Regions from separate parts of the Homo sapiens genome. Here regions 1, 2 and 4 are each reported to be linked to region 3. Evidence: microRNA targets listed by miRTarBase, many of them from high-throughput screens and not tested one by one. Region 3 holds a microRNA gene; each other region holds the end of a gene's coding sequence. Distances are from middle to middle.
Evidence for each region. Region 3 holds the annotated microRNA hsa-miR-548av-3p (AAAACUGCAGUUACUUUUGC, at 2,053-2,072, opposite strand). A microRNA usually pairs through its seed, bases 2 to 8, with sites in the 3' UTR of a target mRNA and lowers its output. Matches are read on the target gene's strand: a 7mer-m8 pairs with bases 2 to 8, a 7mer-A1 pairs with bases 2 to 7 and ends in A, and an 8mer does both.

Region 1 (4,225 bases), 23 Mb from region 3:
TGAGTTGACAGGATTCTATCCTTATTTATTTTCTGTGTTTGTTTTACCTGCTATACTTCAAATAAAGTTTTCATTAAAATTTTTTTCCTACTAAAATGGCTTTTAGGAATTGTACTTTGATTTTTTTTAAGTCAGTTAATCAAAATATATCAAAGGGCTCCTGTAAAGCATCACTTGAGCTTAAGCAACTAGGTGACAAAAATTTTATTCAATTAGCAAAATATTTTTCTTTATTAACAGAAACAGATATGCAGTATGCAGCAAAAGTATACCGTGATGATCGACTCCGAAGGAAGGCAGATGCCTTGAGCATGGACAACTGTAAAGAATTAGAGCGGCTTACCAGTCTTTATAAAGGAGGATGAACTGGAATTTTTATTTATACCTTTTAGCGTACTCTTTATTTTTTCTGTAAGTAAGTTTGGTTTCATCATGAGGGATGAAGGAAAAGATTTGATACTGAAAACTAAACTGAATAGTTGGTTCCTGAAATCTTGGACTGTTTATGACCTACTGGCTCCTTTAAATAGTAACTGAAAACTAAAATGGAATATTTTAGTTAACGCTTCTACAAGTATTTTCATTTTAAAAGCTTACATGATTCCTAACTAAAGTGTCATGAGAAAGGATTATCACACCTGTAGCAATTTCCAGTTTTAGTGATTCTCCATTTTTTCCCTTGTCATGTAAATATTTATGGAATGATCATTTTGTGTACATACAGGTTACTGCTTTTTTATTTAAATTCTTTTAGTGTTTAGCTCCATGAGACACTTCAGTTTAAATTGATGGAATAAATGTTATATGACACATTTACATTTTCCTTATCAAGGTGTCAAATATGTGGACTTTAAACAATGAAACTTTTTCAAAAAGAAAAAACAAAAACTTTAACTTTGTGTAAAATCTTATAGTATTATCAGCTTAGAGGGAATTGATATTTTTAATATTGCCGTTATATTCCAAAATATATATTGAGATAAATGAACTGGTGTAGAATATCAGTTTGCTATTTAGTTTTATGAATTACTATACATATACATGCATAGAAATGAAATGCTATACTGATAAATTTTAAAGAAAATATGAGGAAATGGCTATAAATATTAAACTAAAAGGGTCTTCAACAGTAAAGTGCAGTTATGTCATTTAAAATTCCAATACTTTAAAGGCCACCAAATTTTGATGTATATGTCCTTGAAGGGCTGCTAAAATTTATGAAGAGGACTCACATTTTCCCCCATAGAAATTTGCAGTTTCTTGGTGATCATTTAAGCAGGATCCAAAGAAGTTCCTTTACAAATAAGTAATAAGAAAAATGAGTACTAAAATACAGCTTTGTGCCTTTTAACCCTATGCCAACTCCTAAACATATAAGTAGATTACAGTATACTTATCTGATCAGAGCATGATCTGTTTGGCCACATGCAAGTGTGAGCAGAAATAGAGCAGCACGTAGAATAGTAACTTAAAGCAAGTCATCCTTTAAAAATTCTGAGCTAAAATCTATTTACCATTGAGTAATTGAATTAATCCCATAGGAATAAGCTCCTTGTAAGTAAATCCATGATATGAATTAGAAAAAAAAAACAGCTGGAAATTGAAGTTTTTGATGCCTGTATACTGGATATGAAACTATTTGATTTCTAGTCTTCTGTGTTTAGCAGTTGTAATATTTTAATGATTTTGCTTCATACTCGGTTAATGGAACATAAACATATCTTTGATACTTCTTTGTGAGTGAGAGAATGCTAGATAGGGTGGCTTTGTTCTTTGTTTAAGTTTTTTTTCCTGAATGTAGTTAATTTATGGCATCTGTTGAATAAAACTGCTAAAATGACCTCTTAAAAATGTTCTGTTGTATCCCCTTTTCCAGGTGAATCAATAGAAATGCCTGATTGAATTAGTAGGTTAAACTAAACAACATACTGTCATAGGAAAACTGGAGAGCTTAACCAACTTGCTCTTAGAAATGTTACCTTAAAAAAAAAAAAAAAGCAGTGCTTAAGAGAAAATACAATTTTAATTATTTTGTTGAGCCTGCAGAGTAAGTTTTTAAAAATATAAGTTCATAGCATTTTAATTAACTTTGAAAGTTCATATGCATCAGAAAATTTATGAAAATTTGAATGAAAAAAATTTCATCTATTTATTTTTCTAATTTTAATGGCAAATTTACACTATTATGGCTGATAATTCTGTGAACTTACCTTCTTGTTGACTGATTCTTTTTCCCTTAATCCCAGCTTTAAGGAGATAGGTGAAGTTATTGTACAAAGTTAAGTGATACCATAAAGTATATATTATAAAGTCATACATGGCTTTTGGACAGTATTATATTTCAGTTGCAGTGCTGCATTCCATTAAATTTCATAAAATGCTAGGGAAAATGTGTTTGATAAAATTTTCTGCAGTGAGAAATGACAGACTGAGTGCCTGACAATTTAAGCCACATATGAAGTATGCAAGTAAAGATTCAGTCCTTAATGTCATCTATATCATGGTATAAAAGCTCAACAAGTATCTTATAATTTGGAGTTAACTTTATAAAGTAAGAAGAGTTTGGATATCTTGATAAAAGATTTTCATGTTTGCTGCTTTTTTTATAATAAAAATCCCAACATTTTGCCATCTTATGTTTAGCTACATGAACTTCGCAATTTCATCGGCTCATTCTAATGACCACCTAAAAGTCCTCAATCTTTGAATATTGCTTTATTAGCTCCTCTAACTGGTATTCTAACAGTTTAGCAGCACTTATATTTATTAATGCTTTACATTTTTACCCCTTTTTGTGTAAACACAAATACACCCATGCATATACACACAAACATTATTGTCCTTGTGAGGGTTTGGGGGAAATGAAAAATAGTACCTTTCTCCTCTTCTTTTGATTCCTTAGTTCCCAAATAGACTGGTGCTAGTCATTTAGTCATCTGTAAATTTCGAAATGTAGTTTGATTAAATGTGAACTGAATTCTCAGCAATGAAAAATGTCAAGTTGAATTCATCTAATAAGTGAAAATAATATATTTTGTAAACAGATTACATTTGAACACCTAAATAAGTATTTGTTTCATAATCATTACATGCTTGTTTATGATTTACAAAGATTTGGTAGAGAAAAGTACAGTCCTTAAGGCATATATATGCCAATGCATTAAACTACTCAGCTTTTGTGCCAGCTCAGGTGTTCATAGGAACAGGAATGTGGAATACCAGCTTTTTACTTTAATTATACTTTTATGCTGAATTTTTCTTCCAGTTAAACCTTTAATTACACTAGTATGTAAAGTAGTTACTGAGAAAAATAAGTTTTTGATTTCCCTTCTGTTGATCTGTAACATTTTTAAATGAAGCTATTTAACACATGACATGCTAATGTTACTTAATGGATTCCTATGTATTTCATTAAAAAAAAGTCTCCCACCTGTGTTAAGACAGCTAAATATTTCTTGATGTTGGCTTGAGGACCAAGTGAGCCATCTTGCCAGTTAAGCAAGTTTTATATCAGAGGACCAAATGGTTAAGAAGAGAATTTGTACATTTCTTGAGCTTCCCCATGTGAAGCTTGGGTTCAGTACTATCCTATTACTATCCATCTTCATAATGAGTGAAGCAAACTGAAAGGGAATTCATAATCTTTTTTCTTATCTGAACAGAAAAACTAATGAAAATCAACAATAAATCTTTATTTTAATTTTCATTCAACAGCTGAAAAACCATGTCTGTTGACCACATTGGACCATTGCCTAGTTAAAATCCATAAAATTCCCTATAAACCAATGAAAAGAAACTTGTCTGGCAATAATTTCCAACATTTTAAATTCTAATTTTTAGTTACAAAGAAAAAGGATAGAATGAGGCTTTTCAAGGAATTCTTGCTCATCCCTTCAATTATTTGGCAGGTAAAACAGTCCTAGAATTCAGCTTCCTTTTTGGTTTTATTACTATTAAATAGATACTTTCATATAAATGGAAACACTTTTCCTCAAAACATTAATTCAAAACATACTCCTTATATTAAGGATTATAGCACCATATTTTTTGTATATTCCCTATGTGTAACTTTTTCCTGTTGGTATGTGATATTTTTCATTTAATATGACTATCTGCTGGTGTTGGGGCCAATAGATTTGTGAATATTCTGTGGATGTGTCTATGTATAGGTGTATATATATATATATATATTTTTTTTTTTTTTTCCCAGCTAATTACCTCAAAT
Region 2 (4,225 bases), not on the chromosome of region 3:
ATTTCTGCAGCCAGCTTAAATTTCTCCCCAGAAAATGGAGTTTTCTTTTCTATCCCATCATCAGGCTGCAAAATTTTCCAAACTTTTATGCTCTGCTTCCTCTCGAACACTTTGCTGCTTAGAAATTTCTTCTGCCAGATACCCTAACTCATCTCTCTCAAAGTTCCATGCATCTCTACGGCAGAGGCAAAATGCTACCAGTCTCTTTCCATAGCAAGAGTGACCTTTACTCCCGCTTCCAATAGGTTCTTCATCTCCATCTTGACCACTTCAGCCTGGACTTCACTGTCCATATCACTATCAGCAATTTGTCAAAGCTATTCAACAAGTCTCTAGGAAGTTCTAAATGTTTCCCACATTTTCCTGTCTTCTTCTGAACCCTCCAAACTGTTCCAACCTCTGCCTGTTACTCAGTTCCAAAGTTGCTTCCACATTTTTGGGTATCTTTACAGCAGCACCCCACTCTCTGTGGTACCAATTTACTGTATTAGTCCATTCTCAAACTGCTAACAAAGACATACCCAAGGCTGGGTAATTTATAATGGAAACAGATTTAATTGACTCATAGTTCAGCATGGCTGGCTCAGGAAACTTACAATCATGGTGGAAGAGGAAGCAAATACGTCTTTCTTCATATGGTGGCAGGAGGGAGAATGAGAGCCGAGCGAAGGGAAAAGCCCTCTATTAAACCATTAGATCTCGTGAGAACTTACTATCACGAGAACAGGATGTAGGGAAACAGCTCCCATGATTCAGTTATCTCCACCTGGTCCCTCCCACGACACATGGGGATTATGGGAACTGCAATTCAAAATGAGATTTGGGTGGGGACACAGCCAAACCCTATCATACACTACATTAATATGAGAAATACCTATTAAGACATGAGCTTACACTCTGACAACATGGAATGGCAGCTGGGAACGTAGCCGCAGCAACTTATGAGGAAGGAAGATGGCCACCTGCGTGCTGTGTATAAACTGCATGCAGGGTAGGAGTAAAGGGGAGGCATGGGTGAAGCCAGGTCCAGAATAGGGATGCGATTTTGAAACACAGAGAACAGGAAGAGGATAGGATAAGAGCAAAGGCAGGGAGATGGGAAAGTTCACTGTGTGCTTCAGGTAGCGATGAGACCAATTTACTGGGGTGAAGGTCTGCAAGGCAGGTACCAAGGCAGGATTGGTAAGCAAGCCTTGGGCCCTTCTATATCCAGAGTCTGCACTTCGGCCTGAAGGAAACACGGATCGCTCAAGGTTTCTGAAGGAAGAAGCGGTGCGCACAGAGATGGGACAGTGAGGTTGGAAAGGTTAGGGTTAGTGAGGAGGAGGGGCCCAGAAACGAGTTCATGCTTATTTTATCCGTTTTAAGAATCAGAGACCCAACGCCAGAAGATGGAGTGACTCGAGAGATACTTCATTTATAACACACATCTGTAATTTACAAAGGATTTTCGTTTACATGATCTCATTTTACCTTCAGAACAATTTGTAAAGGAGAACATTTGCCACATTCACAAGTTAAGGAACTGCTGCTCAGAAATGATGGTATTACCTTTGGTAAAACCTTTGTTGGTTTTTGGGACACTGCCTTCTCCCTCCCCACCCGCCCCATTATTCCTTCTCAGGAGACTTCTTCTGTATTTCTCCTTAAATATAGATGCCCTTAGGCCTGCTGTACTCTTTAGATGACCTCTCCTACTCTTGTGGCTTAAACTATCGCATCTAAACTGACATCTGCCTGACGTACTACACAGCTCAGACTTTTCCGCTGAGCACCTGACCTACATACACACAACAACCTGCTCAACTCTTGCTTTCATCAAGCATGTCCCAAACCTAAGTTTTACCCTAGGCTTGCTCCTCCTCCTGTATTCCCTATTCTGTCAAACAGTACGACCCACCAGTCCAGTGATGATCAGCAGTGCCCCCTGCAGCTTTTCTTTGGCTAATTTCAAATAATAAAACAGAGGGAGGAAAAGCATTGAGGCTAACCGCTGGGGGAGGAGCACACTTCATCCCCAGGTGCACAGAAACACACCGGCAGGACTGCTGCAGGAAGGGCTGGTGCTCAGCAGAGGGACAGGACTGGCAAAAGCCACCAGAGCTCAGAGGTATGTGAATCCTAAACACTCAGCATTATTTTTTAATACTTTGATTTTGGATTCCGATTTTAAATCTTTTTAAACACAGTCTGAATTTGAAGTCGCTTCAAATATTTCTTTAAAAGCAATATTCAAACGATACAGGAATCTTGTACGATAGACAAACCAAATATTATTATTCTGATCTTACAATTCACTCACTCCACTCACTTATTTGTTCAGACATTTATTGAGCACTTCTTAAGGGCCAGGCATGGTGTGAGGCACTGGGATGTAACAGTGATTATGACAAAGTCCCTCAAGGAGCTCACAGTCTAATGGTAAACTACAGAGTAAACTGAGGCACAGAGTGGTAAATGACTTACCCAATGAGGTAGAAACAGCTAGGTATGTGAAAATGTGGGAGCAGAGCTGGAGAGAGGGCAAGGTACAACTTGTCCTAAGTAAAACCCCTTGGACTGACTCAACAGCAAGGCTGCATACACAAACATTACAAAATCTACTTGCAAAAACCTGAAAGGAGTTTCCAATTATCACCATGACTGAATTCATGTTTCACAATGAATTCAGCTATTTCCTGATGGCATTTCTATCCTTGCCCCCAAAGCCACTGGGCATGCCACCAGTCTGCTGGGAGACAGCAATTAGGTAGACAGCTTAAAACCAAGAAGTATCTGACTCCAATTTTAGCACTGAAAACCATATTAAAATACTTTAATTAAATCCACAAACATAAATGTGTAGCACATTTATGATACTTCTACATGTAGAAGTTTGGAAAAAGTCTCTTCTAACCCTCATCCAGAGGATTCTAATAAGTTATAGGTACCAAAGAGATTAGAGAATTTGTCTGTCACTTTCCATATATACATTATTTTGGCTGTACAAGGGTGAAAAGTGTCACTCAGACATATTTCGTAAGTAATCTCAACATTATACAGATATATACAAAGACATCACATTTAAATTCGTGTGTACATCTATGCAATGTACAACAGTAACTGCAAACATGAACCAGTGTAAGGCAATTTCTTTTGTGATATATGACATACTCCTTGAAGGGAAGGGTAGAGTCCACAAAGAACTGTCCATTTCAGCCTGACTGTCTGTCTTCATGACACTCTGTGATGAAGCTACTTCAGGAGGCAAGATGTCTATTTCACTGACAAAAAGCAGTGAATAATTATAAAAGGAGTTGTTTTCAAATGTGGAAACCACAATTACTCAGTAATCTAAGTGGTGAACTCCTCAAAGACACTACTGGCCATGATGCCGCTACTGAGAACGAGAGCACTTCATGGATAATTTATTGCTCTGAGAATCAAATTTGATGCGTAATTCTCCACGAAGATATTCCCAAAAAACTCAGTGATACATAAATTCTCAAATGCCATCAGTTGCTTACTTCAAGCAATTCTTCACTTTGCTGAGGATTTTCTTCTGGAAAAGAACACGAGAGAGAAATACACCTAAGTGAATACACCTAAGTGAAGGTCTGATAGGCAAATACGTAAAAGAATACACAATCTGACTACTTCAGAAAACCCTGAAGATGCCTGGTCAAGAACACGTATTCTCAGGTTAATGGCATAAGGCTAATTTTTTCAGCCTCTCAAGAATAAACTGGAACTCTAACTTGTACCTGAAAGCACCCGTCCGAGAATGGAGGAAACCTTCCCTTATTAGGGCTTTATTAGTTTCTTTTGGAGCCGTCACGACTCCCCCAGTCTTCGTAATCCTTGTGTCTTTGTGCTGTTGTCTGCATGTGGGCAACAGCCCCCTCTTCTGGTCATTACAGGTATTCTTCGTCAGTGAAAGCTTCCTATCGGTCCAGCCTGTGGCTCTGCAAGGGCCACCTGAAGACCACCCTGGCCCGCAGTGCTTGTCAAGTTCTCCAGTTGGCTGGGTCTTTGTTCGGATGTCGGTGGAGCTGTTGGCTGGGTACTGTGATGGCTTCTGCCCAGGCCGGTCACAGGATGCTGGTCCCCTGCTCAGGCAATTCCACTATTTGGGATCTGCTGTTGGACAGCACTGCAAGCTGGGTTCCGAGGTTAGATGGAGTCACTGCTCTGGCCAGATGGGTCCAGAGGCGACGTCCTTAGAAATGTGCAACTGAGGACTGAC
Region 3 (4,000 bases):
TGTGTTACGCATAATAAGTTCAGATTTTACCTAGACTGGAGCATTTTTCTAAAGATTCTTTAATTCATCCTTTAACAAGATTGATAAACGTGAATTGTTATATTAAAGAATATTATTTTATTGGGTAGACAAATAATACAGGAGGCAGAGGTATTGGTCTACAGCCCCACCATCTTCCAATACCAGTCCCTGTCCTTTATTGCTGCCTCTAGGGAGGCTGGAACCATTCACCTGATGCCAAATGATTGGAAGAACAGGGCAATGAAGGGACTTAGAATAATTCCTAGTTAACCAATGTACTGCTGACAACAATACACAGTAAAGAGTAAACAATCAGACCTTCCCCAGCACCTCGTCCCTTTGGTGGATGGGGAAATTTGATTTGCCCATATTTTTAATGTAGAAAGATATAGACCACTAGGAATTAATTTACACAGAGGGCTTTTTAGCCTGTGATATGCGAAAATTTCAAGTATAGATTATCTTTTATCTCAACAGACACACTGACACCGATTACCCTTTTGGAACGCTAGAGTCAGATCTATTTGACCAGCTCCTTCTTATACTTTAGGTAGATCAGAAATTCAATTAAGGTTTGGTGAAATACTCATGTTTACCAGGAGCATTTGTTCCAGTATTCAGTTCTGAACCCTAACCTCCAGGATTACGTTCAATGAATAATCAGCTGAGTTGGCCATGTCACCATTCACCAAATCAATACCTATTGCTTAAACTGTTTTTAACCCAGTTTTTATTTTTGCTTTAATCACCAAAGTCCTTTATTTTTATTTTTAAAAATTTAATTTAAAAATTAAAAATATTTATAACAAAATTTACCATCTTACCCATTTTTTATTTTAACATTTTAATTTTTAATTTTTGTGGTTATAAAGTAGGTGTATACATTTATGGGGTACGTGAGATGTTTTGATACAGGCATGCAACACATAATAATCACATCATGAAGAATGGGGTATCCATCTCCTCAAGCCATTATCTTTTGTGTTACAAACTACCCAACTACACGATTTTAGTTATTTTTAAATGTACAATTACATTATTATGGATTATAGTCACCTTGTTGTGCTATCAAAGAGTAGGTATTAGTCATCCTACCTTTTTGTATGCATTAACCATCCCTACCTCCCCACCAGCCTCCTACTACCCTTCCCAGCCTCTGTAACCATCCTTCTACTCTCTGTGTCCATGAGTTCCATTGTTTTGATTTTTAGATCCCACAAACAAGTGAGAATATGCAAAGTTTGTCTTTCTGTGCCTGGCTCAATTCACTTAACATAGTGATCTCCAGTTTGATCTATGTTGTTGCAAATGGCAGGATCTCATTTTTTTAAATGGCTGAATAATATTCCATTGTGTGTAAGTACCACATTTTCTTTATCCATTCATCTGTTGATGGACACTTAAGTTGCTTCCAAATCTTAGCTATTGTAAAGAATGTTGCAACAAACACAGGAGTCCAGATACCTCTTAGAGGTACTGATTTCCTTTCTTTGGGGTATATACCCCATAGTGGGATTGCTGGATCGTATGGTAGCTTTCTTTTTAGGTTTTTGAGAAACCTTGAACTGTTCTCCGTAGTGGTTGTACTAATTTGCATTCCTACCAACACTGTACGAGGGTTCCCTTTTCTCCACATCCTCACTAGGATTTGTTACTGCCTGTCTTTTGGATATAAGCCATTTTAACGGGGGTGGGATGATATAATATCTCATTGTAGTTTAGATTTGCGTTTCTCTAATAATCAATGATGTTGAGCACATTTTCATATATCTGTTTGCCATTTATATGTCTTCTTTTGAGAAGTTTAACAATATTGATTCTTGCAATTTGTGAACATGGAATATCTTTCCATTTTTTGTATCTTCTTCAACTCCTTTCATCAGTGTATTATATTAATAGTTTTTATTATAGAGATCTTTCACTTATTTGGTTAATTCCTGGGTATTTAATTTTATTTGTGGCTATTGTAAATGGGATTACTTTTTAAATTTCTTGTTCAGATTGTTCACTGTTGGCATATATTGGGCTGGTGCAAAAGTAACTGCAGTTTTTGTCATTACTTTTATTGGCAAACACTGCAATCACTTTTGCACCAACCTAATAGAAATGCTGCTGATTTTGGTATGTTGATTTTGTATCCTGTGACTTGACTGAATTTGTTTATCAATTCTGCTAGTTTTTTTGGTGGAGTCTTTAGGTTTTTCCAAATATAAGATCATCTTATCTGCAAATAAAAATAATTTGCTTTCTTCCTTTTCAGTTTGGATGCCTTTTCTTTCTCTTGTCTAATTGCTCTAGCTAGGACTTCCAGTACTATGTTGAATACCAGTAGTGAAAGTGGGTAGCCTTGTTGTGCTTCAGATCTTAGAGGAAAGGCTTTCAATTTTTTTCCCATTCAGTGTGATACTAGTTGTGGGTCTGTCATCTATGGCTTTTATTATGTTGAAGTATGTTTCTCCTATACCCAGTTTTTTGAAGGACTTTTATCATGAAGGGATGTTTATCATGAAAGGATCAAATGCTTTTTCAGCTTCACTTGAAATGATCATCTGGTTTTGTTCTTCATTCTATTGAGAAGATATATAGTATTGATTGATTTATATATGTTGAGCCATCCTTGCATCCCAGAGATAAATCCCGCTTGGTTGTGATGAATGATCTTGTTGGTGTACTATTGAATTTGGTTTGCTGGTATACCCGTTTTTTAAGGGTGCACTTCAGTGGCATTAAGTATATTCCCATTTTTGTAGATCCAATGTCCAGAACTCTTTTCATCTCGCAGAACTGAAACTCTGTACCTACTCAACAAAACTCCCTAATCTCCCCTCCCCCAACCTGTGGCAACTGCCATTCTACATTTTTTGTGTATGAATTTGACTACCCTGGGTACCTTATACAAGTGGAATCATTTACAGTATTTGTCTTTTTGTGACTGGCTTATTTCACTTAGCATAATGTCCTTAGGGTTCATCCATGTTGTAGCATATATCAGAATTTCCTTTGCTTTTAAGGCTATACATTTCTTTTTTTAATCACAAAATGATTTGAGTTTATGTAGCTAATCAATCAATTAGATTAAGAGGGAGTATCCGGTCTGTCTAATAAGAGTTTAGGCATGAAAAATGGTAAGAAAGGCGTTGGTAGAGAGGGAGAGAGAGAATTTGCTGAAATATTTAATGCCATGGTTCTTTAGGGTGCATCAGAATCATGGGGAAGACTTGGTAAATCAGATTGCTAGGCTCAAACTCCAGAGTTCCCAATTCATTAGGCTTAGAGCAGGGCCTGGGAATTTGTATTTTCCAGAAGTTCCTGGGCATGATCACACTTTTGACAACCATTGTAACCTATCCAGGGTGAGGCCTAGAGGATTCTAATTGCCAAAATTTTCCCATCGTGCAAAGAAGATACCCCTCCCAACTAAGACAAGAAGCTTGAAGTTATAGAAGTAGGGAAGCACAGAGAAGAGTGAGAAATAGTGAGAAAACCCAGCCCTCAAGATCCCAGCAACTTGTGGAAATGAGGGAAAAGATGGTGGCAAGTCAAGCTGTGAGGACCAAGTTCTGATTTCTCTTCTAGCCTCAGGGAGGAGAGGGAAAGTGTGTGAGCTAAGTGAGGAGAATGTCAAAGGGCTCAGGGAACCCTGGCTCCACTGCACCATTTGAGACCCTAGGAGAAGGTCACTGGAGTAGGTCTGGCCTGGCTCAATTTCGAGGTCTCTAGAGGTCCAGACAGAAGGAAGAATCTCAGACATCAGACGGCAACCAGCAGACTTGCAAGGAGGCAACTATGGTGGGGTGAGATGATCCTAGGATGGGCCCTGGGTCAGGAGTTGCTGGGATGAGAGTTTGGCAGATGCTAAGTTGTCTGAAGCTAAGGGGAGCTGAGCAGAGACTGAATCTGTAAGTGTGGGGTTGCCAGCAATCCCAGGGGCATTGCCCAGGCCATGGCTGACCATGGATTTACCAGCTGCAGGATTCAG
Region 4 (4,225 bases), not on the chromosome of region 3:
CATTGAAGGACATGCCTTCTGTGAGACGGAAAGCGGCTTATGTAGCCCAGCCCATTCCTCCTGGGGTAGCAGGGCTCCTCCCTGGGTTGGGACATCTGGATAAAGGAATCCCAGTACCTCCCCTCCCTTGCTCTGTGACCGCTGAAAGATCATATCACCTCTCCAAGCCTCAGTTTTCTCCTCTGTAAAATGAGGATGACATTGCCTTCCACATGGGGCTGCTTTGAGGATTCAGGGGCTATAATGTGTGATGGAATCCATGGTTCATGGAGAGGCCCAAGAGCTACCTGTGCAACCGCAACTAGGCGAGGACGCAGTACGAGCATACTGTGTCCGTGGGCCACAGCTCCTCCCTGCAGGTGGAGCTCGAGATCCCGTTCCCAGGCCGCCTGCTCCCTGGCTGTGTGCTGTTCTATATGCTGATGACCATCATGATTCCTTCATGTAGCGCAAGCCACCATGGAGATGGCAGCGAGCAATGGGCTTAGGGCTGGGCACAGGCTGGCCCTCAGGCCCCACCCACTGTCCTGGACAGCTCATTTCCAAGGGTTCCAGGGATGCAGGACGTTCCAGGGATGCAGCTCATTCCCAAGGGTTCCAGGGATGCACCCATGCAGGGCTGGCTCTTCCTGCAGATGTGCGGGGTTTGTGCTCCCTGATCACCTCTCCATCACTGCAGATGTCCTGCGCTTCGACAACACCTACAGCCGGATGCATGCCAAGAAGCTCAGCTACACTGTGGAGGTGCTGCTTCCCGACAAGGCCTCTGAGGAGACGCTGCAGAGTCTCAAGGCGATGAGACCCTCCCCAACACAGTGAAGACCCCAGCCACCTCTACCTGTGCACTCCAACCCCTTCACACCCACCCCTCTGACCCCTGCCTTCCCAGGCAGGGTGGTGCTGGAGGTGGCTGCAGAGAGCCACTTGTCCCACGTCACCATTTCATCTCATTGTAGGCTCACCTGGCACAGTGGCCAAGCAGGAAGGGGCCACCAGTGCATAGCCCATGCTGAAGATTCAGACAGGAACCTCTTTCCCTGTTCCCAGAGAATGCGGCTGAGAATGAGAACGCTGAAGATGATCCAGTCCACTGAGGATGGGTCCTGCTTGCAGAAGCTGCCCTTTCACCCATCTTGACAAGATCCAGCCACCCAGGACTCACCCATGCCTGGTGTTCCAGCTTCAGGGGGTGTGCGTGGTTCCTAGGTCCTGTGGACATCACAGCTTCAGGCCTGAAGAGCAGAGAAGCCCTGTTCTCTGCATGTAGGAGGTCAGCAGGGGTGGGCAGGCCCAGCTGGAGGCAGCTGGGTGAGGGTCCTGGTTCCAGCAGAGCACTGGGGCCCATCCAAGTTTGTTCTGCCACCACTGGATGGAAAATTGGAAATGGACTGGGCGTGGTGGCTCACGCCTATAATCCCAGCAGTTTGGGAGGCTGAGTTGGGCAGATCACCTGAGATCAGGAGTTCGGGACCAGCCTGGGCAACATGGTGAAACCCTGTCTCTACTAAAAATACAAAAATTAGCCGGGCATGGTGGCGTGCACCTGTAATCCCAGCTACTCAGGAGGCTGAGGCAGGAGAATCGCTTGTACCCAGGAGGCGGAGGTTGTAGTGAGCTGAGATCGTGCCACTGCACTCCAGCCTGGGCAACAGAGCCAGACTCCGTCTCTAAACAAACAAACAAACAAACAAACAAATAAAGAAAGAACATTGGACATGGAGAGGTGGGGCCTGGCATGGGTAACCATCAGAGGAAAAAGCCATGCTCAGCCTTCCAGTTGAGTGGGTAACGACTGAGTCTCCAGGGAATTCCCAGTGACCTCCCCTCCACACCTGCTGTGATCCTGCCAACATTTAGCTTTGGTTCTCTTGGCAGCTGCACCATTCATGGGTGCATATACGTAGAGTCTGAACAGGTGCTCTGCTGCTAGAAACAGCAAACCATCTAGATTAAACTCCTAAAGCCAGTGCCACGAGGCATTCCTGTTCCAACTGGGTGTTTGAGCAGATTGGCAAAAAAAAAAAAAAAAAAAAAAATGGCTGCGCTGGCTCCAAGGAGATGGCCTGGGCTGTCGGGCAAGAGTCACAGGACATCCCCATGTCCAGGGGCTGCCTCTGCATCGGAGATGTGACAGGCATCCCCACTACCCTGTTGCACTGCATGGCCACGCTGTCTGCTGCTTTCCCAGATGCAGTGATATTTGGAGTGCCCAGAGGCACTTGGGCTTCCATGGCAGGCTGTGGCCAACTGGAGCCGGGAGGACCTGTGCTAAATTTCACAAGGCCCACCGGTTGTCATGATGGGGGATTGTAATGCCTCACTTCAGCTTTGACATCCTCTGCCTTGATGTCCTCTGCCTAAAAACCAGGGGTTCCTAGACTTGAACTCTGATTCTTGCCCATGTAACTACAGCCGATTTTCCATCAGCACAGCCTTGTCTGGTTTCCTTGCAGGCAGCAAGGATTGCTCTGCCCCATGCACAAGTGTTTCCTGAGACTCTGATCACAGGGCCGTGATCACAAATACGGGCTGGCTGCGGGGGTGGCAAACAAAAATGGGGTCAGGTGCAGGCACTAGTGACTGAATTGCAGTGAGCAGTGATCGCCTGCAGAGGTGAGAGCAGAATCTCCTACCAATTCAGGAGGGGAGGGGCACACTGGGAGCTCAGCAGGGAGCAGGGGCACATGTCCTCAGCAACCCATTTCCAATTATTTTTTTTCTTTTCTTTTCTGAGATAGAGTCTCTGTTGCCTAGACTGGAGTACAGTGGCGCGATCTCAGCTCACTACAACATTCACCTCCCAGGTTCAAGCGATTCTCCCACCTCAGCCTCCCGAGTAGCTGGGACTACAGACATGCACCACCACACCTGGCTGATTTTTGTATTTTTAGTAGAGATGGGGTTTCACCATGTTGGCCAGGCTGATCTCAAACCCCTGACCTCAAGTGATCTGCCTGGCTCAGCCTCCCAAAGTGCTGGGATTACAGGTATGAGCCACCATGCCTGGCCTCCATGTCTAATTTTTAACACTGTCACTTTTTTACAAAACTGAAAAAAAAAAGTCACCCAGAGAGGGGCAGTGGCTTGCCCAAAGTTTGTTTCTTCATTTATTCACTCATTGATATTAATTTAATTTAATTTAATTTTTTAAAAGTAGAGACAGGCCGGGCGCGGTGGCTCACGCCTGTAATCCCAGCACTTTGGGAGGCCGAGGCGGGCAGATCACGAGATCAGGAGATGGAGACCATCCTGGCTAACACGGTGAAACCCTGTCTCTACTAAAAATACAAAAAATTAGCTGGGCGTGATGGCGGGCACCTGTAGTCCCAGCTACTCGAGGGGCTGAGGCAGGAGAATGACGTGAATCTGGAGGCGGAGCTTGCAGTGAGGCGAGATCACGCCACTGCACTCCAGCCTGGGCGACAGAGCGAGATTCCGTCTCAAAAAAAAAAAGAAAAAAAAGTAGAGACAGGGGTCTTGCTATGTTGCCCAGGCTGGTCTTGAACTTCTAGGCTCAAGCCATCCTCCCTGCCTCAGCTTCCCAAAGTGCTGAGGTCACAGGTGTGAGCCACTGAGCCCGGCCTGATTTTGGGTGTTTATTGAGTATCTGCCCAGCACCAGGCATGGCAGACTCTGGGGACACCGAGGACCCTGGGCTGACCCAACTGTATTAACCGGAGGTTTGCGCTCATGGAGGGAGGGAGGTGGAAGTGACACCAGTGATCAGTTATCAAGTGGGTGCATTGTCACCATGCATGCTTGGTTGGGGGCAGGAGCCAAACTCTGGGGGAGCACCCAGCCAAGAAACCTGACAAGGGGTCACGTATGCTTTGTCCAAGGAGGAGGTGACCCTGAAGGGAGAGCTGTCGGATGTGCGGGATGATGGCAGGCGAGCCTTCCAGACAGGAATGGGGGGTGGGCGGTCAGTGGGGCAGGGGTGTCAGAGGCCAAAGGAAAGCTGGAAGGGCTCTCCCAGCCTGGGGCAACGCTGGTAACAACTCACTGGTATTTCCTATTTCTTCATGGATAACTGTGTACACATTAAATAGTTATTAATAATTAATAAAACCATTTTATAATGCCGGTTACAAAACAGCCGTGTAGTTTGTCAGGAAAGAATGGCAAAATCTTGGCAGGAGGCCACAGATCAAAACTCTTGCTCAAAATGAGGCAATTGGAAATACCCAGGCCTCACCTGTCCAGATAATGGAGGTGGGACCTGCTC

Region 1: miRTarBase lists DNAJB14 as a target of hsa-miR-548av-3p. Seed matches in the 3' UTR shown: 7mer-A1 at 777-783, 7mer-m8 at 1,253-1,259 and 7mer-A1 at 2,744-2,750.
Region 2: the mRNA of E2F6 is a reported target of hsa-miR-548av-3p. Seed matches in the 3' UTR shown: 7mer-A1 at 2,435-2,441 and 7mer-A1 at 1,723-1,729.
Region 4: the mRNA of SEC14L4 is a reported target of hsa-miR-548av-3p. Seed matches in the 3' UTR shown: 7mer-m8 at 1,420-1,426.

What each region holds. Positions count from the first base shown.
Region 1 is chr4:99,897,168-99,901,392 of GRCh38, reverse strand. It overlaps DNAJB14 (DnaJ heat shock protein family (Hsp40) member B14), which reads left to right. Exons shown (of 8, transcript NM_001031723.4): 8 at 241-4,225. The coding sequence ends at 365. Among named protein-coding and RNA genes, the nearest start is that of LAMTOR3, 4.9 kb to the right of the region's middle.
Region 2 is chr2:11,442,983-11,447,207 of GRCh38, forward strand. It overlaps E2F6 (E2F transcription factor 6), which reads right to left. Exons shown (of 7, transcript NM_198256.4): 7 at 1,393-3,541. The coding sequence ends at 3,495. Among named protein-coding and RNA genes, the nearest start is that of E2F6, 21 kb to the right of the region's middle.
Region 3 is chr4:76,573,671-76,577,670 of GRCh38, reverse strand. MIR548AH (microRNA 548ah) reads right to left here and starts at 2,120; the gene lies at 2,045-2,120. The region is part of intron 2 of SHROOM3 (shroom family member 3); the gene reads right to left.
Region 4 is chr22:30,486,701-30,490,925 of GRCh38, reverse strand. It overlaps SEC14L4 (SEC14 like lipid binding 4), which reads left to right. Exons shown (of 12, transcript NM_174977.4): 12 at 680-2,024. The coding sequence ends at 819. Among named protein-coding and RNA genes, the nearest start is that of SEC14L3, 17 kb to the right of the region's middle.